Linked DNA regions of Homo sapiens: region 2 is linked to region 1. The links come from fine-mapping of genetic effects on gene expression. A gene starts in region 1. The other region holds a variant in brackets. All regions are shown on one strand. Distances are from middle to middle.

Evidence for each region. PIP is the estimated chance that this variant, and not a neighbour inherited with it, causes the effect.
Region 2: its variant is fine-mapped to the expression of RTN4RL2 in thyroid (GTEx, PIP above 0.99).

What each region holds. Positions count from the first base shown.
Region 1 is chr11:57,449,603-57,464,165 of GRCh38, reverse strand. It overlaps RTN4RL2 (reticulon 4 receptor like 2), which reads right to left and starts at 3,638. Exons shown (of 3, transcript NM_178570.3): 1 at 3,270-3,638. The coding sequence starts at 3,300. It also overlaps the pseudogene RNA5SP341 and the pseudogene RN7SKP259. RefSeq lists enhancers at 1-298, 1,388-1,926 and silencers at 3,362-3,631, 4,731-4,790.
Region 2 is chr11:57,427,969-57,443,950 of GRCh38, reverse strand. No RefSeq gene overlaps it. Among named protein-coding and RNA genes, the nearest start is that of SLC43A3, 8.8 kb to the right of the region's middle. The variant T/A (reference allele first, on the strand shown) is at 9,164.

The sequences.
Region 1 (14,563 bases):
TTCCCATGTCTCCCCCAACCAGGGCTCACCTCCCCCAGCCCATGATAGTGGTCCCTGCAGGCTCTCTGAAGAGCGACCCCGTGCTGGGGGCTCCTCCATAACAGCTGCTGCATAACAGTGACTCTGTTGCCATTTCTGGCCCTTGCCACTGCCGTGCAAAGCAGCTGTAACCCAAGGAGCTCATCCATAATTCACGCAGCGGCTCTCACTGGAGGCAAGGAGGAGGGGAGGGGAGGGGGCTCTGGGCTTCACTGCCCCAGGCCTGCTGGGGCTGGAGCGAGCACTCCAGGGCAGAGGTGGTGGGACTGGGGGGTTGGGGGACTAGAGAGCTGTGCCTTTCCCTCTCTCCCCCGCCCTCAGTCCCTGCCCTGCCCAGTGTGTGCCCTTTTCTTTCTTGCCACGTCCCTTCCCCACCCCCTGTTCTCACTCCTCCTCAGCACCACCACTCCTTCCCTCCAGGCCCAGGCCTCCTGTCTCTCCCGAGGACCACGGCTCCACTCCTGGCCTTCATTTTGTGAATTCCCGGTGGAGACTGGGGCAAGATGCACAGAGTATCAGAGCTGGAAAGGGGGATACCTCGGTGGCCACCTAGAGCCGACCCCTCACATCATAGGTAACACCATTGAGGGCTGGGGAGGGGAAGTGTGAGTTTCTGAGCACCCCAGGCCTCCTGACCAGGTCTCTACAGCTCGCCTTCATTGTCTTTCTCAGAAGCCTTCATTTCATCCCTCCACTACTTCATGGACAGAGGAAAGCCCTTTGTAGCAGCCTCCCCCACCCTCTCTGCTCACCCCCTCCTCTAAAGTCAGCAGGGGATGGCTAGAGCTGCAGGGGAGAGTACAGCAGGGTAGGAGGAAACCAAGAAGCACCTATTTTGTCCTAGGCACTGCATTTGTACAGGTTAACTTCTTTATACATTGAACACAACACACATAATCCCCTGGAGGTCAATATTGTGGCCCCCAATTTGCAGATGAAGGAAGGGAGCCCCAGAAACATGACACAGTGGCCTCAGGTCATGCAGCTAGTACAAGGTGGAACCCAGATTGGAAAAGAGGGACATCAAGCCCATGTCAGAGAGACACTCTGATCTTTCTTTAAGAGGTGGCCACATCCTCCGCAGAAACCACGCCTGAATGTGTGAGACACTGCCCTTGAGGTAAAGACAGGAGAGAAATTGCACCCAGGTGCCTAGGGCTGGGCCAGCCACAATGCTGAGTCTGTTTGGCTATTCAGGGTCAAGGCAAGGAAGGGACTCCAGCTCTCTCTGCAACTTTCACCTCCTAGGCTTCCAGTTGCGGTTGTTCTAGAGTAGTGATTACATGTGGGAGTCAAGAAGAGATGACCCCTGTCCAGAATATATGGCCAGAACTGACCAGGGGAGGGAGCCAAGAGAGGCCAGAACATGGTATTGATCCCGGAAGGCTGAAGTGTCCAGAGCCAAAAGTATCTGTTCACTGAGGGACCACTGTCCAGGACTCTGGCTATCAAACCTTGGAGTACCAAGGCTCAGAAACAAAGTTCTCAGCCCACAGGCCACTCTTTGGGCCGGAGGCCCCTGTAGAAGAAGGAACTTGAGGAGAAGAAAACTGGACCCAAAGTAGGGGGCAGGATCCAGGCTACCCACCCACAGGGCAGAGTCGCTGGTGCAGAGTGGTCCCAGGAAAGGATGCTCCCTGGAAAGGCAGCAGAGGCCTCTCGCTCTGGAAGGAGGGGCACAGGGTCCCAGACGAGAAGCAAGGGCTCCACACCCAACGGGCTGCTTCAGGGAAGGGCTGGGGCCTGCGGGCAGATGCTGAGGGGGCAGGGGCTGAGGAGGTGGGAGCTGAGGAGTGGGATGGAGGTGGTGGTGATGCCAGTGACGCAGGGGCCTGGGGAGGCACTGACGCGGGTGACGGAGGTTTAGAGCTGCTGCAAACAGCTTCTCACTCTGCCAGAATGTAACACCCCAAAATAAGCAGCCACCGTGGTGGCGGCAGCGGCTGCAGAATCCAACGTCCAGGCCGGATAAATAAATGGCAGCACAGGAGCCAGCCTGTTTGCCCACCCTCGGAGGCTGTCACTCCCCTTCCAAAGTCCTCACCCTCTGTCCCTCACAGCCACCCCCAGGGCCCTGAGCTCAAAGCACCCCCCATCTGGCCCACCAGCCACTCCCTGAGAGAAGAAATGTGGCAGGCAGGCGCTTTGGGAATGGAGGGCTTCCCACGTGGAAGTGGTTACCAGAAGCCTCTTTGTCTCATCCCTGGGCAGCACCCCCAATCCCCAGTCCCTCTCTCTCAGCCTTTCTCTTCCTCCTCCTCTTCCCTCCTCTCCAGCCCCTCTCCCATCCATGGTTCCCTGTCTCCAACCCTCTTCGCCGGTTCCTGATACCCCTTCTCTAGTCACCATCCCCATCCTTCTCTGGTTTCTGATCTTTCCATTCTCCTTTTCCATTCCAGTCCCCAGGGTCCCAGTCCTGATTCTCTTTCCCGCTACCTCCATCCCAGGATTCTGGGTCCCTGTCCATAGTCTTCTTCCCATCCCTCCCCTGATCTGGTCTTTCCTCTCCTTCCCTCTTCCTTGGTCTTCACCTGGGTCCCACTTCCCTCCACGCTTTTCCCATCTAACCTTTATTCCTTCTCCCCCTCCCCCGCTCCATCTCCCTCCTCCTTTGAGCTTCCCTCACCACTTTCTCCATCTTTGAGTTCTCCTTCCTATCCCTCTCCCCCTGACCCCTCCCCACCCCACCCCCAGTCTCTGGCCCACACCCTTATCTGTCACTCAATCAGTAGAACTATCCTCTTTCTAGCGCCCTCCATCTCTCCTACCAGAGAGGGCCACTTGGATTTCCCTCTGCGCCTCCTACCTCCCCAGACAGCCCCCTACCCACATCTCCTGTCTTCCCAGGTGGCCAGAAAGTGCTGAGGCACCGGGCAGGAGGAGTTGCTGAGTCGGCGCTTCCCCAGCCGGCCCGAGTCCTCAGCGTCCCCCGGAGCAGGTGGAGCGGGGACAGCGGAACCTGAGCCTCCCTCCCCGCTCCGGGCCGGGTCCACCTGCCCCCTGCGTCCCACCTCGGTCACGAGCTCCTCGCACGCGCCCGCGGGCTCCCAGCCAAGTGCCCTCCTGCTGAGAACAGCCCTGGCGGCGGGGGCGCGGCCCCAGCGCTGAGCTTTTCCCCTTCCCCAGGTTACCCCACCTCCCCAACTGCCCCACCCTCAATCCCTGAAAGAGGGGACGCCCTGCTTCTCTCCCCAGGATGCCCTCCGCTCTCCCGCCGCTGGCGTTCTTACCTTGCAGCAGGCGCCTGAGCCCGGGCAGCATCTTGTCTCGATGCTCGGGGGAGGGGGCAGCGGGGGGAGGGCGCTCCCACTCGCTCCCTGAGCCCGCCGGATGCACGGCGGGGACCCCGCGGGGCTCCGGGAGGGCCCGGGAGTCCCCGGGCTGCGTGGCCGGGCCGCGGCGCTCTACCCTGCGCCGCCCGGGCTGCGGGCCTCGGGAGGAGCCATCGGCCCCGACGGGACGGGGCGGGGCGCGACGGGGCGGGGAAGGCTGGGGCTGGCCGTCGACGCCCAGCGCCCGCGCCCCGCTAGCTGCGCTGTCCGCTCGAGAGTCCGTCAGTCCGTCTGTCCGTGTGCCCAGGCTGCTAGCCGAGGGAGAGTGGGGACAGCGAGGAAGCTCTTCCCAACCACCCCCACTCCTTCCCGCACTCGCTGGCTCCTCCCTCGTTTGCTGGCTTGCCGACTTAACCCTTTCTCGACCACTAGGAGGCGGGAGCGGCTTTCTAACCCCCTCCACCCCGCCCCCCTCCCCCCCGCTTAAGCGACCCGGAGGACTGTGTTCGATCGTCCTCGCGGCGCCACTCTTCTAGAGAAATCCCTTCTTGGGGGAATGCGGTAGTTTAGAGGAACGCCGTGGACTTGTCCTGTTCCCCCCTCCCAACTTTCCAGGAGAAGATGAGCTTCTGGGTCACCCCCTCCCCCGCCCCCAGCCGCGTCCCTCGCGCCAGTGTCCCAGCCTCCAGCATTTCTGTCCCCTGGGACAGCTCCAAGATTCCACTTTTCCTTCCACTCCCAGACCTCAAGCCCAGTGTGCGACTATAAGAATAGTATATGCAAGAGTTTGTGCGTGCAAGATCGAGTGCATATGAGCGTGCACGTGCGCGCAAGGATGCTTGTGCAGGTGTGACTCAGGATGCTTGCCCGTTACCCTTTGTACGGGCTTGGGGAAGCGGGGGGGGGGGCACGTGAGTGTGCACACGGGTGAGCCGCTGAAAGTCCGCCAGCGTGCATGTCTGAGCTGGTGGGAAACGTGAGGCTGTGCGAGGTTTTGCGCTTGCGATCTTGGGGATGGGTGGAAAGAAATATGTGCCCGGTGTGTGTATGCCCCTTAGTGCATTTACAAGCGGGTGCGAGATGGGCGCGCGTGCGAGTGTGTGCGTTTTTTTGTGTATGTATGATGTGTCCGGGAGGGGAGACCTTATCTCCCGCGGGGGTGCAGGAGAGGACCCAAAGCTGGGGAGAAGACTGTTGGCTTCGCGTGAACTTCCTCTACCCCCTTTTAAAGAGGGGCGGATTATGGTCTCACTGGAGCCCCTCTGGCCCTTCATGGCCTGGTCACAGGCGGTATCAGCAGACCCATCACCTAGGCACTTCCCTACAAAGGCTGCAGGGCGGTTGACCCAGGTCTTGACTCGGCCCGGCGCGTCCGCGGAGCCGCCCCGGCGTAGGATAGGCTCGGGGCCCTCGGGGGAGCCGCTTCGGGTACGGTGGCCAGGCAGCGCTGGCGGGGTTGGGGCTGCTGGAGCCTCAGGTGCGGCGGTGCCGGGGCTGCTGAGCCCCCTGGGCTGCCGCTCCCGCGAGCACAGAAGCCCCTCGCCCCGCTGCCCGCGCCGCGGCTCCTCCTTTCCTATCCGTGCCAGGGTCCAATGCAGTGCCTGGCATACAGTCGGCTCTTGATAAATGTTGGTCTTATTCTTCCCATTCATTCTCTGCTCCCTCCACGGTCTCTCGTTCTTCTCGCGTTCTCATTCGATTTCTCTGGTTTTCTCCCCCGACTCTTACTCATATTTCGTGGTCTCTGTCTCTCTGTTCCCTCCCTCCCTCACTCTCTCTCGGACCTTTTCTGTCTCTACTCGTCTGTTTCCCTGCCCGGTCTTCTGTCTTTCTCACTGTCTCTCTGTGTCTTCGTCTCTCTCCTCCTCCCCGCGGGGCTCCCTGCGTCTCTGTCTCTCGTCTCTGTGTGTCTCGGTGTCTCTGCCTCCCTTTCTCTCCCCCTCTTCCCCAGTTTCATTCCCAGGCTCCCGGCCCGTGGGCACCTCGGCTCTCGGGTGCCCCCTGCTGGTTCCATTTTCGGACCTTCTCGGCCCCCCAGCTCCTCTCTGTGCCCCTAAATTTCCTTTCCCGCCCCTCTCGTTTTCGGATCAGGTAGAAACAGAAAGAAAAGTCTCTGGGGCTCCCGTCTTCCCTCACCCAGGGCTCCCCCTATTTCCAGGAGGCAGGACAGGACCCTGCGTTTCCCCAGGACCCACCCCGACTAGGGCCTGCGCCTGGGGGGAGGGCCTGGAGGCGGCGGCGGGGAGGGAGTGTTGGGGGTAGCAGGGTGGGGTTTGGCGTCCTTCCCCGGAATGAGCCGCGGCACAATCTGTCGCTGGGTTTGTTTGCCGAGCTGCCTCCGGAGCGCAGTGGGGCTGGCTCCCGGGGAGCGAAATATCACAAGATGCGGAGACAGACGCTGAGGGGCGGGTGGGCGGCGGGCTGACTCAGGTGTGCTGTCATCGGTTCCCGGGGCCCGCGCTCTTCGGGGAGGGGTGGGAGGGGACCCCGGGCCCCCAAGGCAGGCGGAACCCCGAAGCTGGGGGGGAGCTCCTCCTCCTGGGACGAGCTGCGAGGAAAGGGAAGCCCCGTCCGGGAATCCCTGGCTCCAGGCAGTCGCAGCCCCTCTGCTCATCCCCGCCCCTTATACAGGTGTCACGGTTTCCCATAATTATCTGCTGACTCACCCCCTCCACCCCCAACTAGACTACCAGCTTTTTGAGGGCAGGGAACTCGTGTCATCCATTGTCGTGTTTCCAGCAGGTGCCCACTGAAGACTTTTAGGTGGCTGGCTGGTGGGTGGGTGGCTGGCTGGTCTCATTTTACAGTAGGTGCCACAATGCATTTGGTCTTCTCTGTAGAGCACTCTGACCCCTCTTACCTCCCCCCATCCACATTTGCTGTCCCCACCCCACCTAGCTCCGGTTAGGGTTGGGGGGAGGGGGGACGAATTGGAAATTTGAGTCTGGAGATCAGAGTTCTCCAGGTGACCCTAGACAATGTACTCCCCTTCCTTGTGCCTCAGTTTCCTCATCTGTACGGTGAGGCTACCCGGTCATCGCGAGGCTGCATTAAGTCTCCAGGCACCCCAGGCATGAGAAAGTGCTTGGTAAAATGAGGTGTGTTGGTGTGTGGAGGGGTGGTAGGTAGCTAATGTCGTTACTATTTTGGCAGTAATTCTTTGGTGGCAATGATTGTCCCAGTAGAATCAGACACATCATGCCTGAACATGAGTTGGGCTTCTGCAGTTAGACATTTTGAGATCGAGGACTCGGCCTCTGGCTGGACTCTTGGACACTGGGCTGGAGGCTTGGCCGGGCTTTGGTGTGCTGGGTCTTCAAGCCTTGGCCGCAGTGCTGGCCCGCCCTCTGGTGGCTCTAGGTGGATCTGCAGCCCCACGGGAAGCCAAGATCTCTGGAGATGGGCTCAGCGTCGGATTTTCCCTGAGAAGGAGGAGGACACCCGCCCCCGCCCACCCCATTGTCTGGAGAACAGCTGGCTTTGGAAAGGAGACCAGGTAGAAGGAGGGGTTTATTGGCACAGACTGGATGAGTCTGGACTTCCGAGTTCTCACTTACTAACAGCGCAGCTACTCTCAATGTGCCACCCAAGATCCCCCTTCCCTCTGGGCATACCCACCGAGTGAGTCCACAGAACCTCCCTGGCTCTTCCCTTCACCTCTTTGTCACCTTCACTGTGTAGAACACTTGGCGGTTAGTGTACGAGGTCCGGTGGCTCAATGGGCGAGAGCACAGGCTTTGATGGGTTTGTGCCCTGGCTCTGAAGCTCTCTAGCTAGGGAGGGGACCTTGGGCAAGTCGCTTACCTTTTCAAACCCCAGTTTTCCTATTCAGAAGATGGGAGGGGCTGGGCATGGTGGCTCGTGTTGGTAATCCCAGCAATTTGGGAGGCTGAGGCGGGCGGATTGCTTAAGACTAGGAGTTCAAGACCAGCCCTGTCGACTTAGCGAGACCCCTGCCTCAAAATTAACCAGTCAGTCAATCAATCAATCAATCAATAAAAGAAATTGGGGGGTGGTGACACTAGTTCCTAGCTCAAGTTTGAGGCCATCCCTGGTGACTTAGAAGGACCTTGTCTCAAAATAAATAAATAAATGAATAGATAGATAAATACATAGATAAATAAATAAATAAGATGGGAGGAAGAAGGACGATACTTGTTCCCAGCTCATAGAGTTGTTTGAGGCTTAAAAGAAACAAAGCATGAAAGAACATAACAGAGTAGCTGACCCTGTATTTGGTAAATGCTGATAATATTATTTTTACTTTTATCCTAGTGACTACCTGGAGAAATAGGCATTGCAGTCTAGAGGCAGAAAGAAAAATGATGATCTGCTGTCATTTATTTATTTATTTTGAGACAGTGTGTCATTCTGTCTCACTCTGTCATCCAGGCTGGTGTGCAGTGGCATGATCCTGGCTCACCGCAACCTCCGCCTCCCAGGCTCAAGCAGTCCTCCCACCTCAGCCTCCCAAGTAGCTGGGACTACAGGCAGACACCACCACGCCTGGCTAATTTTGGTAGAGGTGGGGGTCTCACTATGTTTCCCAGGCTGGTCTCGAACTCCTGGAATCAAGCAATCTGCCTGCCTTGGCCTCCCAAAGTGCTGGGATTGCAGGTGTGAACCACTGCACCCAGCACCTGTGGTCTCATAAGGAGTGAGTGGCAGAGCCAGGTCTGGGGGTCAGTTCTTAGATATGACTTCCTACCCACGTGTACTACCCCTCGGATGACCTTCACAGTTCCACCCTACCTGGCACTTGCTAGGGCTGCCCACTGTGGTAAAAGGAATCCTGGTCCAAATTAAAAGTCCTGAGTTCTAGCCTGGTCTCTGCCTCCGAATGGCTGAGTAACTGGGACAGACCTCTCCTCTGTGGGCTTCAGTGTCCCATCATTGAAGGGAATATCTTGGACTCCATGTTCTAGAGAGTCCTGCAAAGCTACATCTTCGTATCATCCAGGTGTCTCTGTGACTCCCAAACTAGAAGCTACCAAAAATGGAGCCTCTCAGCTAGATCCCATGCTGCCTCCACTTTCCCAGCTCTGGGCACGTGATGTGGGCCCTGGGGGAAAATCAGATTTTCTAGGGATTCCTTCAGACCCCACCCTGGGCTCCTCAGCTCTCCCACTGGTCACCAGGCCTGCTCCTGAGCCAGTCAATGGAGACACGTGCTGCCTACTGTGCTGGGAGGTGGAGGGACGGGGCTGCACTTGTCACCCAGAACCCTTCCACAGTGAGTTCCACACCTTGTTCTGCCTGGCCTGAGGGGAACAGGGCTCCTGTCCAGGCCCTTTCTAAAACAGGCAAGAAAACCTAAATTAGTATAAAGGGCAAGGTTGTCAGAACATGTTTTTCTCTTTCCCTGTCTCATTTTTAGGGTCCCTGTCCATGTATTGTATGTATGTATGTATGTATGTATGTATGTATGTATGTATGTATGTGTGTATTTATTTATTTTGAGATGCAGTCTTGCTCTGTCACCCAGGCTGGAATGCAATGGTGAGATCTTGGCTCACTGCAAACTCTGCCTCCCGGGTTCAAGCAATTCTCCTGCCTCAGCCTCCCAAGTAGCTGGGACTACAGGTGCACGCCACCACACCCGGCCAATTTTTGTATTTTTGGTAGAGATGAGGTTTCACCAGGCTGATCTCAAACTCCTGACCTTGTGATCCATCCTCCTCGGCCTCCCAAAGTGCTGGGGTTACAAGTGTGAGCCACCAGGCCTGGCCTATTATTTATAGTACAACGGGTATATATTAAGCCCTTGCTTCATGTCATGAACTTACGTGTGCTGGCTGATGTAGAGTAACTCTAGCGGGGAGAGTCTATTAATGTCCCCTTCTTACAGATGGAGAAACAGGCTCAGAGAGGTAGTGCTGCTCTTAGATCTGGTCAAAAAGAGTCCTTCCCTGAGCCCTGTGCTTTAGAGGGCTCTGCTTTGGCCCTCATCTAGCCAGTTTCCCTCCATGGGGGCAAGAAGTCCCTAAGACCAAGGAATGTGCCTCCCAGAAGCTGCATCTCTCTTCTAGACCACACTTAGGTTATCCTGGACCCTGGAATCTCAAAAAGCCCAAGTGGACTTCCCGGCCCTTTGTGGGCTTCTTCTCTGAACTACCTTTCTGCCAGTGCATGAACCCATGGCCAAAGGGTGGCCAAGGGGCAGATGTTTGGAGAGGGTGTGGTTGGGCCTTAGACATGTTGGTTGGATATTCATGTGCATGGACATGAGGCCCCTTGTTGTCTGAGATGGAGCTGTGGTTGGGAAGTGGAGGGAAGCTGCGTGTGTTTTGTTTTTTTTTGAGATGGAGTTTCGCTCTTGTTGCCCAGGCTGGAGTGCAATGGCACGATCTTGGCTCACTTCAACCTCTGCCTCCTGGGTTCAAGCAATTCTCCTGCCTCAGCCTCCCAAGTAGCTGGGATTACAGGCGTGTACCACCATGCCTGGCTAATTTTGTATTTTTAGTAGAAACGGGGTTTCACCATGTTGGTCAGGCTGGTCTCGAACTTCTGTCCTCAAGTGATCCACCCACCTCAGCCTCCCAAAGTGCTGGGATTACAGGCGTGAGCCACCGGGCCTGGCTGCTGGCTGTATTTCTGTATAGAACTTCAAGGAGCTGGATCATTCTAAATTTGAACCTAGATTTCAAAGGTGAGGTTCCTTTCCAAGTGCAAGATTGATGCTTGCAGTTGGGAGGCTAGGGATGCCTTGGGGGCAGAGGTTGCCCGGCTTGCACTAGTGGGGTGGTGCCTCCCAGGCTGTGGTACCAGTGCCTCCCTTTGCACTCCAGCCCTGCCCCTGCAAGTGTTAGGGGCAGCTGGGTGGAGAGGTCACATAACTTCATCAAAGGTTACATGACTTAAAAGCTGCAAAGCCAGGCTATGAACTCAAGTCTGGGTGAATCTTTTCTTCTTTAATGAAGCTCCACACCAGTCTTAACCAGAAGTCAGAATTTTAGCTCCCTGGAGTTCTCTTGGTTAGAAAGTTGAGTCCCATTGTTTCTTGGAGTTACCTTCCAGTGAAGAGAGCCTCCCTATCCCACTTGACTCTGAACTTGCTGAGTTCAGGGTCCATGTTGTCTTTGGCTTTGTTTATTTTGTGCACCTGGCACAGCCCTGCAGAGTAGGTGCTCAGCAAATGTTGCTGACCTATCAGAAACACAGTCTACTGTGGGAGGTGCTAATCAAACAATCATGGTGCAAGGTGCTATGGGTAACATCTGTGTTCAGCAGAGTGGGTAAAGTCTAGGATGGAGGTGGGGTTGGGGAAGCATTGGGAAGCCCTGCCTAGAGTGGCCGTGAGATTAGTTGCTGTAGACTCTCTTAATTTGAGAACCCTCTATCATGGGGCAAGAGACTCTGATGATTCCCTGTTGCATTTTGCACAACTCTCCAACCCTCCCCCATTTCCTTATAGGCACCGTTGGGGATGGCATCCCTTCATTAGGTGATCCCATGTGAACAACGCTTTTCTCATTTCTGCAGTAAGTGAACAGGACAGAACAATTCCTTTCCCCTTAAATTCTGTGGGTTGAAGCCACTAGATTTGCAAGGGAGAGTGAGTACATGTATGTGGGGTATTGTAGGAGGTGGGGCAAATGGAAGTGCCGCAAGCTCTAATATGGGGGACACATGGAGCCTCCTGCTACTGGTAGTGGGGGACTCAGGCCGTTGCCCCAGTTCAGGCCCCCACTATAGGATCAAACACAGTAGGCCAGTGACACATATCTCTGCCTCTCAGCCCATTTTCTCCAATTAATTTAATCTGTCCAGGGTGTAGTTTTGATCATGCATTCCCCTGCTCAGGAGCCTCAGTGGCCAAATCTGGCTGGAAGCAATTAATGTCTATTGACTCTGAAGTGCTCGCTCACATTTATAAAACAAGCCTCAAGACTTCAACAGATAAACAGGTGAAGGAAGTGGATGACTACTTCACCCAAGAGGGTATGCAGAGAGTAAACAAATACTTGGAAAATAGTTCAACCTGTTAATGATCAAAGAGATAGAAATGAAAGCCGTGTGAGGATAGCATTTCATACTTATTAAATTAGCAGAAGTTTATAAACACCATCACCCAGCACTGGCAAGGTTGGATGACGTCTGTGTTCCTACATCTCTGGGAGCAGTGTGCAAAACTCTGGAAAACAATCTAGTAAAATATAACAAGAGCCTTGAAAATATTATTACTTTTTGACTGACTAATCTCACTGCTGGGATTTGATCTTAAGAATATAATGCAATAGACAAAAAAAAGCTCCAGGCATGACCCTGGCATTATCCTCCATTTCCCCAGACAGTGAAATGGTTAAGAAAACTGCAGTTAACATAGTCAATGCAATATTATGCAGCCACAAAATGATAATTATAAAGAATATGCAGAAACATGGAGACCGGTTTATAACATCATATTTGTTTATAAAAGTCAGGATAAAAGAATTTGCATGAACACTGATTGCGACCATGTAAAGTAAGTATTCATGTTGACAAAGTCTGGAGAATATGCAAAATTGAAAATTATTGAAGGTTGGGAGAATGATGGGTGGTTTTCCTTTTACTTGAAGAATGTTCTTTGTTAATGTTGGAAAATTATTTTCACAACATAATGAGTTCTGTAAAAACAAATCCTCTTTTATTGCTTATAGAATAAAGTCAAGATGCTTTAGCCTGTGCTCACTGTGATGATTACAATGATCACATTTATTAGGTACACTTACTACATTCCAAAGAGAGAAGTGAGCACGTTGCACAGGTGATTTATTACTATTATTATTCTTTTCTTTCTTTCTTTCTTTTTTTTGAGACAGGGTCTCACTATGTTGCGCAGGCTGGTCTCAAACTCCTGGGCTCAAGCAGTCCTCCTAGCTCGGCCTCCTGAGTAGCTGGGATTACAGGCTCATGCTACCATGCACAATAAAATCTTGTGATTTTACTGAGAGCTCCTTCGGAGATTCTGGCAGGACAGAACAGGTGCTCATATACCCTTGACTGAAGAATGGTCCTCCTCTATCAGGAAAGGTCTTCCTCTTTGACCAAGTGTGCAGTTTCGGGAGGAATGCATGCGGAGTGGTGAGGGAGAAAGGGGACACCTGCCCAGCCAGCCTGATCAGCCGAATCAACTCTGGAGATCAGTGGGGTGACAGGTGTCACAGCCAGATCATCCTCACATGTTGTGATTTTATTGAATCTTCACAACAACTCTGTGAGATAAAAACAAACATTATCTTCAATTTACAGACTAGACATCTGAGATTCAGCGAGGTTAGCCCTCCTGCCTAATTTTACACAGTTAGCAAAAAAGCTGGGTTTCAACCCCAGCCTGTGTAATTGCAGAATTTGAGCTGAATTCTGGAATTGGCATTGTATGTTGATGTTTAAAGAACTTCAGTCATTAATGTATCGCTATCATGATTTTGGGGATAGCTGTGGCTCACACATTATGTACTATGACTTAGTAATTTTAAAATTTAAATCAACTCAATTTTTAAACATGTGAATGCCTACTTTAGCATTTTTTGTAAAAGCAAGAATCCCCTTGGAATCATTCATTAAATATGTTGGTTTTGTTTTTCAGTGCGCGATAAAATGAAAACATTAACAGTATAAAGGAGTCATACGAGATCGTTTTGTACACCCCCCTTTGGGAAAAACTGAACTGCCTTATGCTCCAGCCTCCCATTCCGGTCTTATCAGCACCTGCCTGGTCTGTCTCCCAGACCTTTCCCAGCCTCACTCTGCTGGGGAAGCTCAGACCACCCTATACCTCCAGTTGCCCTCAGTCTCTGCCCTTCCCCAGGTCTTGCCTGAGCCAAATCCAGATCAAAGCCATTAGTGGACAAAGAGGACACAGATTCAGAAGGCTGCCCACTACAACAATGAATTTCCAGTTATTAAACTCCTACTGTGTGCCAGGCATTATTCCAGAAGCTTTATATACATTATCTCTATTGGCTTTTTATAATGACCCTTGAAGTGGGTATGATTTTTACTTCTATTTTATATGTTAAGAAAGTGAGGCACACAGGGGTTAAGGCATTTGCTTATCACACGATGGGTAAGTAACAGCCAGGGTTCAAGGCTAGTACTGTTGAGCCCCAAAGTCCTTTCTCTTACCACTCTGCTTTTCAGTCTTTTTATTTTTATTTATTTTATTTAATTTATTTCTTTTAGAAACATGGTCTTCCTCTGTTGCCTAGGCTGGAGAGTGCAGTGGTGCAGTCGTAGGCTCACTGCAGCCTCAAACTCCTGGGCTCAAGCAATCCTCCTGCATCAGCCTCCCAAGTAGCTGGGACTATAAGCATGCATCACCACGCCTGGCTAATTCGTTTTTATTTTTATTTTTTGTGGAGACAGAGTCTCGCTATGTTGCCCAGGCTGATCTTGAACTCCTGGCCTCAAGCTATCCTCCCACCCTGGCCTGCCAAATTGCTGGGATTACAGATGTGAGCCACCGTGCCCAGCCCTCTCTTTACTGATACATTATATTTGTACATATTTATGGGATACGTGTGATATTTTGTTACATATATAGAATGTATAATGTTCGACAGGGTATTTAGGATATCTATCACCTCAAGCATTTATCATTTCTCCCATCCAAATACTAACCAGGTTCAACCCTGCTTAGCTTCCAAGAACAAACAAGATCTGGCACATTCAGGGTGGCATGGCCGCAGACAAGCATTTATTATTTCTATGTGTTGGAATATTTTAAGTCCTCCATTCTAGCTATTTTGAAATATACAATACATTGTTGTTAACTATAGTCACCCTCCTCTGCTATCGAACATTAGAACTTATTACTTCTATCTAATTGTATGTTTGCACCCACTAACTAACCTCTCTTTCTCCCCCCCCACCCCCAGGCTTATTAATGACGAGGGTTATATAACGGCCAACAGCTTCCTCCACCATGCACTCCAAAGTGGGCCCATAAATTTTTCATCTCTCCAGGGTGTGGGGAAAAAAGGCACTCTCATTCATTACAGGTCGGGGTGTTAATTGGTACGACCACTTTGGAAGACAATTTGACAAATATCTATTAAATGTAAAATGCATATCCTCTTTGACCCAGAAATTCTCATTTTAGGAGTTTATCCTGCAATTATTCTAGAAATGTTCAAAAAGACATTTACAGATGGATAGTCAATGCAACCTTGTTTGTAAGTTTCATATGATGCTGAAGACATAACTTAAATATTATCAATAGGAGATTGGTTACACAAATTTTAGAACATCCACCTACAGCCATCAAAAAG
Region 2 (15,982 bases), 21 kb after region 1:
CCCAGGCTGGAGTGCAGTGGCGCGATCTTGGCTCACCGCAACCTCCGCTTCCTGGGTTCAAGTGATTCTCCTGCCTCAGTCTCCTGAGTAGCTGGGATTACAGGTGTGCACCATGACACCCTGCTAATATGTTTTGTATTTTTAGTAGAGATGGGGTTTCACCATGTTGGCCAGGCTGGTCTTGAACTACTGACCTCAAGTGATCACCCCGCCTCGGCTTCCCAAAGTGCTGGGATTACAGGCGTGAGCCACCACGCATGGCCTATTTATAATTATTTTAGAGTGTACGCCTTATACTTATAAAAAAAAGCTAACTGTCAAACAGCCTCGGGCAGGTCCTTCAACAGATATTCCAGAAGACATTGTTATCATAGGAGATGACAGCTCCGTGCATATTATTGTCCCTGAAAACCTTCTAGTGTGGAAGTGGAAGACAGTGATATTGATGATAGGACCCAGTGTAGGCCTAGGCTAATGTGTGTGTTTGTGTCTTTGCTTTTAACAAGAAAGTTTAAAAAGTTAAAATAAAATACAAAAATTTTTAAATAGAAAAAAGCTGCCCAGGAACAATGGCTCACACCTGTAATCCCACCATTCGGGGAGGCCAAGGTGGGTGGATTGCTTGAGCTCAGGAGTTCAAGACCAGCCTGGGCAACATGGTGAAACCCCATCTCTACAAAAAATACAAAAATTAGCCGGGTGTGGTGGCATGCGGCTATAGTTCCAGCTAATCGAGGGGCTGAGGTGGGAGGATCACTTGACCCCAGGTGGTTGAGGCTGCAGTGAGCAGTGATTGTGCCACTGCACTCCAGCTTGGGTGACAGAGTGAAACCCTGTCTCAAAAGAAAAAAAAATCTTAAAGAATAAGGATATAAAGAAAGAAAATATTTTTGTGTAGCTGTTCAATGTTTGTATTTCAAGCCAAGTGTTATTACAAAACAGTCAAAAGTTTTTAAAAATTTAAAAGTTTATAAAGTAAAAAAGCTAAGTAAGCTAGGGTTAATTTTTTTATCGAACAAAGAAAAATATCTTTGTATAAACTTAGTGTAGTCTAAGTGTACATTGTTTTTATTTTATTTATTTTTTATTTTTTTGAAATGGAGTTTCACTCTTGTTGCCCAGGCTGGAGTGCAATGGCATGATCTTGGCTCACGGCAAGCTCTGTCTCCTGGGTTCAAGCGATTCTCCTGCCTCAGCCTCCCAAGTAGCTGGGATTATAGGCACCCGCCACCATGCATGGCTAGTTTCTTTGCATTTTTTTTTTGAAATGGAATTTTGCTCTTTGACCCAGGCTGGAGTGCAATGGTGCAATCTGGGCTAAATGCAACCTCCACCTCCCAGGTTCAAGAGATTCTCCTGCCTCAGCCTCCTGAGTAGCTGGGATTACAGGCATGCACCACCACACTCGGCTAATTTTTGTATTTTTAGTAGAGACAGGGTTCTCAACTAAAGAGAACCATGTTGGCCAGGCTGGTCTAGAATTCCTGACCTCAGGTGATCCACCCACCTCGGCCTCCCAAAGTGCTGGGATTGCAGGCATGAGCCACCATGCCCAGCCAGTATACAGTGTTTATAAAGCCTCCAGTAGTGTACAGCAATGTCCTAGACCTTCACATTCACTTACTACTCACTCACTCACTCACCCAGAGCAACTGCCAGTCCTGCAAGCTGCATGCATGATAAGTGCCCTATATAGGTGAACCATTTTTTAATATTTTATACTATATTTTTACTGCACCTTTTCTATGATTAGCTACACAAATGCTTACCATTGTGTTACAACTGCCTACAGTAATCAGTACAGTACTATGTATGGGTTTGTAGCCTAGGCTATACCATGTTGCCTACGTGTGTAGTCGTCTATACTGTCTAGTTTGTACACTCTATCATGTTTGCATAAAGATAAAATCACCTAATGACACATTTCTCTGAGTGCATTCCTGTTGTTAAGCAACACATGTATAAACATTTACAAGAAATAGCTCAAATTTTTTTTTCTTTTGATACAGGGTCTTGCTTTGTCACCCAGGCTGGAGTGCAGTGGCGCAATCTCGGCACACTGCGACATCTACCTCCCCGGTTCAATCGATTCTCCGGCCTTAGCCTCCTGAGTAGTTAGGACTACAGGCACGCACCACCACGCCTGGCTAATTTTTTTGTATTTTTATTAAGAGATGGGGTTTTGCCATGTTGGCTAGGCTGGTCTCGAACTCCTGACCTCAGGTGATCTGCCCGCCTTGGCCTCCCAACATGCTGGGATTACAGGCATGAGCCACCATGCCCAGCCATTACGTTTTTTTGGTTGTTTAATTTTTTTTTTTTTAAGAGACAGATTCTCACTCTGTCATCAAGGCTGGAGTGCAATGGCACAACCATAGCTCACTGCAGCCTCCAACTCCTGGGCTCAAGGGACCCTCCTGCCTCAGCCTTCCCAGTAACTGAGACTACAGGTGTGAGCCACCATGCTCAGCTAATTATTTTTTATCTTTTATTTTTTGTAGAGGGGGGGTCTTTCTATGTTGCTCAGGTTTGTCTCAAACTCCTGGGCTCAATCAATTCTCCTGCTTTGGCCTCCCAAAGGGCTGGGATTACAGGTGTGAGCCTGAAAACCTTCTAGTGTGGAAGTGGAAGATAGGCCCAGGCCACTTATGTTTTCAAGTTAAGCAAGGTTTAGGTCACTTATGAAGCCTGACTAGTTTTGTTTGCTTAAGGGATCTGCAGGCCTGACCTCGGTTTTCATTTGTTTTAACAGTGTCTATGTGTATGTGTGTGTTTATGTACGTGCATGATGGGGGGAAAGCTCAGAAATCAAGTAAGCCAAACACAAACATGTAATTATAAGCAGGGATAAATTCTATGATGAAGAAGTATGGGCCACGGGAGAGTACTTGTGCCAGTCTGGTGATCAGGAACAATGTCCTTTGGGAAGTGACATTTGAGCCATGCCCTGAAGTATGGTAGGAGTTGGTTAGGGGTGAGGCAGTAAGACCCAGAGCTGGGGCTTCCTGCACAAGCTCAGCTGGGCACTGAGGACCCAGTGGACTCTGCTACAGGGCAGTGAGGAGCAGAAAGGCTGAGGAAGGCTGGGTGTGGTGGCTCACACTTGTAATCCCAGGGCTTTGAGAGGCTGATGGGGGAAAATCGGTAGAGCTCAGGAGTTTGAGACCAGCCTGAGCAACATAGCAAGACTCCATCCCTGTAAAAAGCTTTTAAAAATTAGCTGGGTGTGGTGGTATGCATCTGCAGTCTCAGCTACTCAAGAGGCTGGGGTAAGGATTGCTTGAGCCTAGGAGGTGGACGCTGCAGTGCGCCATGATTGTGCCACTGTACTCCAACCTAGGAGACAAAGCGAGATCCTGTCTCAAAACTGAATGAATAGGCTGTGTGCGGTGGCTCACTCCTGTAATCCCAGCACTTTTGGAGGCTGAGGTGGGTGGATCACCTGTGATTGGGAGTTTGAGACCAGCCTGGCCAATATGGTGAAACCCGATACAAAAATTAACTGGGCATGGTGGCTCACATCTGTAATTCCAGCTACTCGGGAGGCTGAGGCATGAGAATGTCTTGAACCCGGGGGGCAGAGGGTGCAGTGAGCTGAGATCGCACCACTGCACTCCAGCCTGGGAGACAGCGAGACTCCATCTCAAAAAAAAAATAATAATAATAACAATTAAAAAAAAATTAAAAGGCCAGGGAGCACTGGCAGCCTGTCCAAGGTTTCAGGTCACTTTAGTAAAGGGAGAACAATGGCTCCTCCCAGGACCTCTGGGATCTCAGCATTGATACGACAGTCATGGAAATGCTAGGGCCCAGGCAGACCATCTCAGGGAAAACAAGTGGCTCTGCCCTGCCTTGGCCACTTCCTGGCCCTCTGCATGCCCCAGGGTCTCAGCACCAAGCTGTTCTCAGTGAGTAGCTCTCATTTAGTGCCAGGGCTCTCGGGCTTACATCCTACGATGACGATGGAATGCATAAAGGATGGGGCTGTGATAGCCCAGAGCTAGGGGTTCGAATCTCATGAGATGTTCATGGAGCCCTGGGAGGGAGCTCAGTGCAAGTTCATTTCTCTTTTTTGGTTGAGATGGGGCTCAGAGGAGGAAGGACTTGTTCAAAGACACACAGGGAGTGTTTCAGTGTGGGACGGAGGTTTATGGAGAAAGGGTGACCATCCAAGGCTTGGACAAAGATCATGACTTCGACCAGCAAGCCTCAACTCTGTAGACTTGGTGGGGGCCAGGCCCTCCCAAACACACCTGACAGGTGTCTGTGGTCTTGGGGACATTGTCGCTCCCCTTCCTGCTGATGCTCTGCTGTCCCTCTCCCATGAAGCGTATCTCTTCGCCGTCTCCCATCCTTGCTGAGAGAGGATGGGTTCTCTTCTGACCAATACTGAAGATCTTTAGTAAAGTTCTCTTTTTTTTCATTTTCTGAAAGTCCCTCTCTTGAGAAATCAGGACAAGTGAGTCAGGGCCAGGACAAAAAACAGTGTGGGACGAGTGTGGTGGCTCACGCCTGTAATCCCAGCACTTTGGGAGGCCAAGGTGGCGGATCACTTGAGGTCATGAGTTTGAGACTAGCCTGGCCAACATGGTGAAACCTCGTCTCTACAAAATACAAAAATTAGCCAGGCGTGGTGGTGCATGCCTGTAATCCCAGCTATTCGGGAGGCTGAGGCAGGAGAATCACATGAACCCAGGAGGCGGAGGTTGCAGCGAGCTGAAATTGGGCCACTGCACTCTGGCCTCTTGGCAACAGAGCCAGACTACCTCTCAAAACAAAAACAAAAACAAACGACAAACAGTGTAGACTTTGTGTTTTTCTCAAAAGCACTGTCAAGCCAGTGCCCGCAGCAGTGGGCCTAGACACCTCCAGTCTTGCCTCAGGGTCAGTTTCCAGCCTCCCTGGACACTTCCCCCAGGTATGTGTACTTTTTGATTGTCCTAAATCCAGAGTCTGTGGCCTGACCTGGTTTGTCACAGCTCTCAGTCCCTCCCCATCCCGAATCCCAGGGAGCCGCAGGTGTGTGCAGAAGAGGCACACCACACTCAATACATCTTGCATCCTCGCTGGACCCAATCCATTGGCTTGGTGATGTACAGACTGAGCCTCATTATAGCCGTTCGTTCCTGTTGACCTTTCCAGATCAATCTGCCAGCTTGGCTTCTCCGAGTTTCGCTTGTCAGCATTTCTCCAATCCCATCATGTACTTTGGACCTCTTTGTTGGGTGGCTTGCTTTATCTGAAATTTTCAGATTTGACTTCAGGTCTCTCCTTTGTCCCTTAATATGGCTTAATGGTGGACCCTGTCAGGGGTAGAGAAAATATTGAGGAGCCCTGACTTTGAGGTGCACAAGTTAGAGGGTTAGACAAGTCCAGCCACAACCAGCCCAAGCTGCAGTGTAGGGAGGCCTGTCCAGCTGCTCCACGGTTGAGGGTGGAGCATACAGGAAGGCTTCCTTCTTGCTGCAGCCCAGGTGTTCTGGCTGCCCTAGCTGCCTGGCTTTGGTAGAAGAAAGAAAGGCTCTGTCTCTGACTTGTCAACTAATGGCACTATGAGATTGCACATAATTAACCTGGGTCTGCTCTTCCAAAAGCCTTGGGCCTCTGACTGCAACATGGAGTCTGGGTATCACTCCCCATCCCTGCGCCACTCACCTGCTCTGGCGCTAGGCGTGTGCCTAATCACTTAATTTCTCTGTGCTGCCTCTTAGGTATCACTTCCCCTGATCCCAAATACTTACCAGGTGTGGGATGATACCTGACTAGTTACTCCTTGGAGGTATCTGCTTCTCACCGGGGACTCCGAAACCAAACGAAAAGCAAGGCCAAGCCCAGCCTAAAGGACGCTTCCTACATGACTTCAGGCTTGCGGGGGCTGGAGCGTGGGGGTGGCAATGGAGTTGGGGGGGGCTCAGGGAGGGGATGTGGAAGTGCTTTGCTTTGCAAACTCTAGAGAGCCGTGTAAATAGGAGTGATTATTCTGTCCCTTCCCTTTCTTTCCAACAGGAATCAGCATCCCACAGCCCATGTTCAGCTATGAAGAATGGAAACTGAGGCTCCGGGAGGGGTATAGGGAGGAGCCAGCAGGGTCTTGAGTTCATATTAGTGCCCTTTCCTCCATAGGCACATCTGTGTTTTCTTTTATTTTATTTTGAATTTAATTTTTTTTTTTTTTGGCAGAGTCTTGCTCTGTCGCCCAGGCTGGAGTGCAGTGGCGCGGTCTCAGTTCACTGCAATCTCCGCCTCCTGGGTTCAAGTGATTCTCCTGCCTCAGCCTCCCGAGTAGCTGGGATTACAGGTGTACACCACCACACCCAGCTGATTTTTGCAATTTTAGTAGAGACAGGGTTTCACAGTGTTGGCCAGGCTTGTCTTGAAATCCTGACCTCAAGTGATCTGCTAGCCTCGGCCTCCCAAAGTGCTGGTATTATAGGTGTGAGCCACTGCGCTCGGCCACATCTGTGTTTTAAATGAGAGGAAAGGGGATAATGTGCATTTTGTGGAAGCTTGGGCCGTTTGTGTCTAGGACTCTTATGATCTTCATAAGTTTTCCCCCAGGGAGGACACTGTTCCACTTAGGGAGTCAGGACCCCCAGTCCTTACAAGATTCAGCCTCTCAAAATGGAGACAGCAGTTCCAGGCCTGGGCTGGGTTCTGTTCACACTAGGAGAGGGCAAGTGAGTGGTGTTTGGGATGTGGGGAAGTATTATGAAAACAGAGATGCTCCAATTCCTAGTGATAGGAAACCATTAAGCTACTTGGCATCTTAAAACCAAGAGCGGTTCAAGTTCTGAGATTGTTAACACACCTTACAACACCGCCGCCGTTATTAGGAAGAAGCTCTGTTTGATGACGTCCCACACTGTGGGTACCTTTATGAACAGGAATTTGCTTTTTCAAATCCCAGAGAAGTAAGATTAAAGTTGGCTGTTCTCCATCCTTGAAAAATTTGGTTTTAGGGTGAATTCAAGAATGACTGACCATACAGAATGGGGAGCAAACTTGGGAAGAAAGAAGGCACAGTTCAGAGCTCTCCCAATAGTCACCCCTGAACTGCACCCGGACCATCAGTTATCTCTGTGGGTAGAGCTCAGGAATCTAAAATCCATTTTAAAATTAAAGTATATCGGGGCTGGGCGCGGTGGCTCATGCCTGTAATCCCAGCACTTTGGGAGGCCGAGGTGGGAGGATCACGAGGTCAGGAGTTTGAGACCAGCCTGGCCACATGGTGAAACCCCGTCTCTACTAACAATACAAAAATTAGCCAGGCATGGTGGCAGACACCTGTAGTCCCAGCTATTCGGAAGGCTGAGTCAGAAGAATTGCTTGAACCTGGGAGGCAGAGGTTGCAGTAAGCCAAGATTGTGCCACTGCACTCCAGCCTGGGCAACAGAGGGAGACTCTGTCTCAAAAAAAAAAAAAAAAAAATTAAAGTATGTCATACATACTGTTACAGGCACAGACCTTAAGCGTACAGCCCAGTGAAATTTTACACATCTATACAGCTATATAACTACCACCTATATCAAGACACATTCCAGGAACTCAGACTCCATCATACCCCTCCTCAGCAGAGGTAACAGACCCACACCTCTCCTGCTCCGGTGGTAATTAACCACTATTCTAACTTTTCTATCAATTAGTTTTGCCCATTCTTGAGCTTCACACAGATATACATTGTCAGGCATGATGACTCATGCCTGTAATCTCAGCACTTTGGGAGGCCGAGACGGGAGTATCACTTGAGCCCAGGAGTTGGAGACTACTCTGGACAACATAGTGAGACCCCCGACTCTACAAAAAAAATAAATTAGCTGGTCATGGTGGTGCGTGCCTGTAGTCTTAGCTATTTGAGACGCTGAGAGAGGAGAATCTCTTGAGCCTGGGAGGTTGAGGCTGAAGTGAGCCGTGATTGCACCACTGCACTGCAGCCTAGGTGACAGAGTGAGATTCTGCCTCAAAAAAGAAAAAATATGGCCGGGCGCGGTGGCTCAAGCCTGTAATCCCAGCACTTTGGGAGGCCAAGGCGGGCGGATCACGAGGTCAGGAGATGGAGACCATCCTGGCTAACACGGTGAAACCCTGTCTCTACTAAAAATACAAAAAAAGAAAGAAAAAAAAATTAGCCAGGCATGGTGGCGGGCTCTTGTAGTCCCAGTTACTTGGGAGGCTGAGGCAAGAGAATGGTGTGAACCCGGGAGGCAGAGCTTGCAGTGAGCCGAGATCGCACCATTGCACTCCAGCCTGGGCGACAGAGTAAGACTCTGTCTCAAAAAAAAAAAGGAAAAAGAAAAAATATATATACATTGTGTACTTTTTGGCATCTGGTTTATTTTGCTCAATATCACATCTGCGAAATTAATCTACACTGTGTGTATGAAAGGTTGGTTCTTTTTGTTGTGATGCAGTATTCCGTCGTGTGACTACGGGACAATTTGCTTATCCGTATTCCTATCGGTGGGCATTTGGGCTGTTACCAGGTTCTGGCTGTTATGAATAAAGTTGCTATGGATATTCTTGTACACTACTTCTGGTGAGCGTATGCACTCATTTCGCTTATGTAAATATCTTGGGTGGAATTACCTGATCATAAGGTAGGTGTGTTGGCTTTGTAATGTGCTGACTTGGTTATGTTGAATTCCCTTTTTTGTGTATTTCTGGTTAGAGCGGAACATGAGGGTGTCTCTTCAGGGAATCTGGAGGGTGGAAGGGAAGCAGGAGTCGGTTTCTGGCTCACACATGTTGTGACTGAACTGCTGGTACACCTGGTTGGCATGGAGCTGGCTTCTCCTTTGGCGTTGCCTACTGTTGGGGCAGGTGTGTATGTGGTTAGCTCCATGCAATGAACCCGGGCTTCTGCAAAATACATTAACAACGACAGAGACAACAAAAGCTGATGTGGATTTAAAGGCTTCAGTTCATCCTCATGGGGTTCCAGTTCATACTTATGGGGCTCAGTTTGCTCTGTCTTGCCCACTTTATATCCATCTTCCTTTCCCAGTTGCCTGACCTGTGGAATTCAACTGCAACATGACATGCAAAGATAATAGCCTTACAAGATTGCTTAACTACCTCCTACAATTGAGTAAGGCCAAATCCCTGTAGCAATCCACAGAGAGAGTGGTTCCACATCCCTGGTTGAACTTGGCTGATTCATTAAGTG[T/A]TTGTTTAACTTATTTCGAAACTGCCAGACACTTTTCCAAAGTGGTTCTTACTGCTTACTCCCTCCAGTTGTTCTGCGTCCAAGCTCCACCTTGATATTTTCATTCTTTTAAATTTTACCCATTCCGGTGGGTGGATATACCTGATTTTTAAACAAGCTCTCCTTCAGCTTGTTATGAAAGCGAATGGGTAAGAAACTAGTCTGTGGAAAGACTTTAGTGCTTAAAGGATGCCAGTTTGATTTTCAATGATATCTTCACCACTTACTGGCTGTATGATCTTAGTTGACTTTTTATCTCTCTAGGCTTCAGTTTTTTCATCTATGAAATGAATTATTAATCATCGCTAACAAGTATTGACTGCTTACCAGATGGCAGACACTGTTCTGAGCACTTTATGTGTATTCCCTCATTGAATCCTCTTGACAGATGTTGAGGTGGGTGCTATTATTATCCCCAATTCAGAGAAGGGGAAACTGACTTAGGTAATCTGCCCGAGGTTGCAGAGCTTATAAGTAACAGAGCCAGGATTCAAACCCAGACGGTCTGGCTTCCAAGTCCATGTTTTTACCATCTCTGTCCCTCCATTATAAGGAAGCATGAGGATACAGTGACAACACAGAAGTGAATTCTCTGCAAAGGGCAACACAACTAGTATGTATTGATTATTCCTCTTCAGTGGGTCTCAATGGGAAATTGCCTTTCAGTTCTATTAAATACGCAGAAATTAATCTAAGCAAACAAGGAAACAAAAAGCCTTCCACAATCATGATAAATGCAGCCAGAAAGGTAAGATCTTCATAGGATCCAGAAAAATCCAGCACTGTCCAAAGGAGAGGACACCCAGATGGCTCCCTGCCTTGGATATTCTGATCCTTGGCAGGATGGAGGCTTTATAGAGGTATGTCAAGCTTCACCTATGTGTCAATCCATCAACTCCCTTCCCTCTGACTTTGTACTCAACAAAGAACCTTCTGGTATTGATTTCCTTTCCCAAAAGCCTGTCCTTCCTGAAAGAGATTGTGCTGACCAGTCAGCCTTAGGATTCCCATCTGCTGGGTGGTTTCATTTCTCAGTGTTAATTAATAAATTGCATTTCAGGTTTATCAATCAGTCTCTTATGAGTTTGTTTAGTGTGGGTCATTTCCCCTATACTTAATCACAACAACTAAGCTCCCAGGGAGGGGTAGGGGAGGGAACACCATTGGAGTAGTATAACAGAGATGTCCAAAGAATGGTATGAAAAGATATACTATCAGGCTGAAGAGGACACAGAGAGGACTTCTGTATGGGGAAGGGAACATCAAGACAGGATTCCTGGAGGCAGATCACATTGGCACAGGAAAAGAGGTACTTCAGCATAATGGTGAAAACATGGGCTCTGGATACTGGGAAGTCTATCTCTTCCCATTTACTGGCTGAGTGACTTGGCCAAGTTACTTCATCTCTTGAGGCCTCAGTTTCTTCATCTTTAAAGTTGGCATAATGATAGTACCTCCGCCTCCTTATGGGGTGGCTGTGGGCATCAAATAATAATATATATTACATATAGCTCTTAGCCCAATGCCTGTCCCAAAAGCAGCACTCAGTAAATGACTGTCATTACTGTTGTCATTATTAATACCCAAAAGGGTGCTTTCATTGAGAATTCTAGAAAGGCACACATTTGAGGCCTGCTGCCTCCCTGATGCCCCTGAGGCAATTTTGTCTTAAAAGGAATAAGGATTGAGTCTGTGTTTGCTTTAAGACCTGGAGGGCAGAATGCTTTTTGCAGATAGGGCTCTTTCCTTGAGAGTGGTCACAGCCCATCTTGCGGTTTTGCAGCCCACGAGGAGAGCTGCATGTACAATCTATAAGAACCCATCAGCCCCGGGAACTTCCGTGGTTTCTGAGTCACTCTCAGGCCACTTCAGCTTCCAAGCAGAGGCTCCCAGGGCGGACTCACCATATAGGCCTTTTCTGCCCTCTCCCGTGCAGCATCTGGAGGAACATTGCAGCACCCCACGACAGATCCCTGCTTAATGTCAGCCTCTGTACAGAGTCCCAGCATTTCAGCAAGTCAGGGCTAAGAGAGGTTCAGCACTCGCTTCACAGAGGTAGGAATGGAGGCCCCAAGAGAGAAAGGTGCCCGGGGCAGCCCACCCAGGGGGCTCCAGAGCCAGGACTGGACCCTGGGTCTCCCACTTCCTTGTCCAGTGCTCTGTCTACAGTCCGCAGTGGAGCCTTCCCTAATTTCACCACAGACTTGCTTCTGGTCTAATGCCATGCCTTGAGTATCATCTGGGGTTCCCATCCTACATGTGCTCTCCTGGCAAGTGGAGGTTCCCCTCCACCCCAGCTTCTCCTTCTCCCTCCAGCTAATCCCTACCCACTTCCCCATCCTCCAGCACCATGGAAACTGTTCCAGTCTCTTCCGGCTTCCCTTTGCCTTTTTCCACAACAAAAGTCCAGTGTTCAATCGGCCCCAGCAGTTTCCTGCTCTTTTCATCTTTGGGGTGTTGGGCAAAGCTCTCAATGTGAAAAACCCCGTTGTTTTCACTCAGGAGTCGTCTCCTTCTCCTGGATCCATTTCCTCTTTTCATGATCATGCGTGTGGGTGGGTGTGGTGTCTGTGTGAGCAGGGCAGGGAGACACAGAATCACAGAGAGGCAGCACTACTCTCTTGTTTTAATCAAGGGTGCTGTCTGAAAGAATTACCCATCTTCATTCCTATTAGTAATAACTGGTACCCCCATCAACCCGATTCCAGAACTCATGCTCTGTGTAGCTCTTGGGAAGCCTCCCAGGAAGGCTGGGTAGGGCACAGATTAAGAGCATCAGCTGGCTGGGCATGGTGGCTCACGCCTGTAATCCTAGCACTTTGTGGGGCCAAGGCAGGCAGAACACTTGAGCCCAGGAGTTTGAGACCAGTCTGGCCAACATGGCGAAACCCCATCTCTACAAAAAATGCAAAAAAATTAGCTGGGCATGGTGGTGCACGCCTGTAATCCCAGCTACTCGGGAGGCTGAGGCAGGAGAATCACTTGAACCTGGGAAGTGGAGGCTGCAGTGAACTGAGATCACACCATTTCACTCCAGCCTTGGTGACAGAGTGAGATGCTGTCTCAAAAAAAAAAAAAAAAAAAAAAAAAAAAGCATTAGTTTCAGTCAGAGCATCAGGTTTCTATCCCAGTCCTGACACTGCTACCTGGTGATGTTGGGGGAGTTGCTTCGTCCCTCTAGGCCTCAGTTGGCCCAGATAATAGATGCTAATAACAACACCTATCGTGAGATTCAGTGACAGATTAAGCAAAAAGCGCTTCGAATCAGATACATAGTCAGTGCTCAGTGCCCAGCAGGTATTATTGATATTCCTTATTTTTCTTCTCAGGGGTAGGACGTGCCTCCATGTTGACACAGTGTTCCCCAGCCTAGTCCTTAGAGTTGCAGGTTTAGATATTGTCAGTGCACTGAGGCATTCCTTTCTAGCAAAGTCTATCGGGAAGTGCAGTTACCAGTAAACAGTTGCTTGATGAACATAGAAGTGGAGCTGGGGCTTGGGAGGGTGGGTAGCAGTAGCCTCATAAGCCCTGGTGTGGTGGGGCTTGGGGCTCTGCTTTCTCTTAGGCCTGGCCCAGTGCTTCCAGTATCTGGTCTGGTGGGGGAGCTCTGTTTTCTGCATGGTGAAAGGGAGGCTGATCCAGGCTGATCCTCTGCTGCCTCTAGCATCCACTGAAGCTGAGCTGGCTGCTCTGAGGGGCCAGAGTGGCCCCCACCCTCCAGTGCCTCTTTGGGTATCCTTTCAGATTCACCTCTGTTAAAGAGAAAGGTCTCCCCAGAGCAAGGAGGCCTCATATTTACTTGGCTATGTAGTAGTTCCCCACCCTCCTGAGAACTGCTTTGAACACACTAGGAGATACCCTGAAGAGCCAGCTCTAAGACTCCATCCCCTTCCTGTCTACTGTGGCTCATGAACAGACTTCCCACAGCTTACAGGACAATCCAAGCCCCTGCCTTAAGCCCAGACAGTCTTGGGGGGTTGTACTGAGTGCATTTGGGTGTCATCTAGAGATCAGTTCTCTAGGGTGGGACTTCTTAAGCAAGGTAAACTGAGCTCACCCATTACTTAGTGGTTTTCCCCCTAATTTATTTCTTTTTTAGGTTAGGAACACTTTGAAATTCTCCCTAAATGTGACTTTATTTCCTCTTTGTTTTCCAGTAAGTCAATAATATTTGTTAACAACAGTAGCTGCTATTTATTAATAGTGTACTAATTGGGCAGTTTTCATACATTATCTTTAATCCATACAGCTCGATTCCAATTTTATAGATGAGGAGACGGAAGCTCAGAGATACCAGTAATTGGCTCGATAGCAGTGTGCTTGTATTATTTTTGGCACTGCCTCAAGAGGATTAGAATTTTCTCTGCAGGTGAAATGATGTTTGCATTTACCTTTTGCTTTCTGACTTCCAAAACAGGCTGTAGAAACCCCTTTCAAGACCGTAGGTGGAAAACCAAACATTTTAATTTACATGAGCCCATTGTGAAAGGAAAGCTTATGTTTGTTTGTTTATGTGTTTGGCGTATCCGAAATCAAAGCCCTTTATGTGAATGGCTCAGAGTTTATCTACATATACAAATTTAGAAAGTGATGTCAGAGGGTAGGAGAGAATATCTGGACTCTGCCCAGAGAGTGGCAATTGCCCTCGCTGAGGTTGTTCAGAGGAAGTTTGAGGAGAGAGGTCTGTGGACAGGCAGGGACTGCATTGGAAGGTGGTGCTCTTGAGGACTAGAGGATACTAGCCATTGTTTGTGCCAGGGGAATGATGGAGTGCAGCTCACTTATACTGCCCTCTTTGGCAAACCCTCTTTCCCTAACCTAAACATATCCATCTTCCCACTCTGTCCATAAAAACATCCATAGGGTGGATCCTGGATATCCAGACTTGCTGATGATGGGAAGGAAAACCACCTCCAGCATTGGTACTTGGGCAGTAGGATGCAGGAGATCCAGTTCTATGCTCCCTCTTCCCCTCAAAGCAATGTCTCATGGCTGGCATCCCCAGACCCTGGACTGGTCCTTACCAGCCAGTTGACTGGACCTCAGAAGGGTTTTGAGCAGTTAAGTGAAGCCATCCAGTGGGAACCATGGAAATAAACTCTTGCAGGAGAATGGCGATGGCTTGGAAGCAGATGATGCCTCTGTGAGAGATGATGAGTGTCTGCATAGAGCAGTGGCCACGGATAGATAGGAGAGATATTAAGGGGTGAAATCAATAGGACATGATTGATTGATGTGGGCTGAATTCTTAATGCCCTCACTTAGATGGCGACGCTGGCCTCAAATCTTTCCACTTTCTTCACCACCCTGTGCTCTAGCTGGTTCCTAAATGTTATTGTTTTGTTGAGGTTCCGTGCCTTTCAATGTGCTGTGCTAGCATCTGCCTGGAAGACCATTCCCACACTCCAGAAATCTTGGGTTTCTTTGTCTGTCTCTCCCACAAGAGAATGAGCCCCTTGAGAGCAGGCACTGAATCTCTTCTCTACGAATCCCGGCACTTGGCACAGAGCCTGAGGTACCACATGTATTTGTTGAACCAATCAGTCAATTAAAAAAAAAAAGGTGTGAGATGATGAGGAAGGAGGCGAAGAGAAAAGGATGAAGACATCGGGTGCACCGTCAGACCTTATTATAATCACTTCTCTCTCTGATGTTACTCATTAATCCTCATTGGAGCCACGCAGGAGAGTGATCAGAATAGCATCTGCCTTTTCTAGCTGCTGGAATTCGAACCAAAGAACATGGGAATGGTTCAGAGGATATTCTAATTTCCTGTCCCATCAGTTCAGTAAGACTTGTGTTAGTGGAGGCCACGTCTTCTGCAGACATTGATGGGAGATGTGGAGTGGAGGCTCTAAGAGTCAAGAGAGGTAACAAGATAAGGTGGACAGAACCCTGGACGACCTGCCCCGTGTCCCGTGCTTCAGTCCTGGATGTACAGATAGCCCATGAGCTAGATCTTTCTGGCAGGCTCCTGCAGATTAACATTCTAAAATCTGTCTCTTTACTTTGACTTTTTTCTGTTTCTCCCTTGCTACTTCCACACTTACTGATCCCCCCAGGAGACTAAAATGTATGCCAGAGCAGAAGATAGGGCATGCATTAATTTCAGAGTCTTTGTGTCTTGCAGTAAAATAGAAAATCTTGCATCTTAAGCCCTGTTTGTCCTGGGATGCTATATTTTTGTGGATTTTCTCCCATAAATAATGTTATTTTAAGAAAAGACTTGTTTTCTCTAATGTCCAAATGTTTGTTAAGACGGGGTGATGAGAGCATACGTTTCAGAGTTGGGAAGGTACTGCAGCTTTGTAGAATGACCGTGGGCAAGTTCCTTTGAAATTCCTCCCCAGAGCTGCTTCTCTGGCTCTGTCTACATAACTGCAGACTAGAAAATCTACTACCCTACAATCTGCCTATAGCACCTGCGCCATGCAGGGACCTCATACACCCATCTTATACTTCTTTTATGACAATTCCTATAATTAAGGTACTATTGTCCTCGTCTTACAGGTGGGGCAGCCAAAGAGCTTGCCTCAGGTTGTATAACTAGTGAGTAGCTTGGGGTACAGGACCCCAGCCACCCTTCCTCCATTCAGTCAAGTCACTAGGGTGGTTGCAGACTTTTATCTTTTGTGCTTTGGTGGTGAGCTGGAAAATCCTCAGTTCTGGCTGTCCCCTATCGTAACCTCTATTTCTTCCTCTTAAAAAAAAGAGGAGTGGGCTTGGAATAGCTGGAGTTCCTGGGCCCTCAGGGGATCCAGGTAGCTGGGGTTGGGAGTC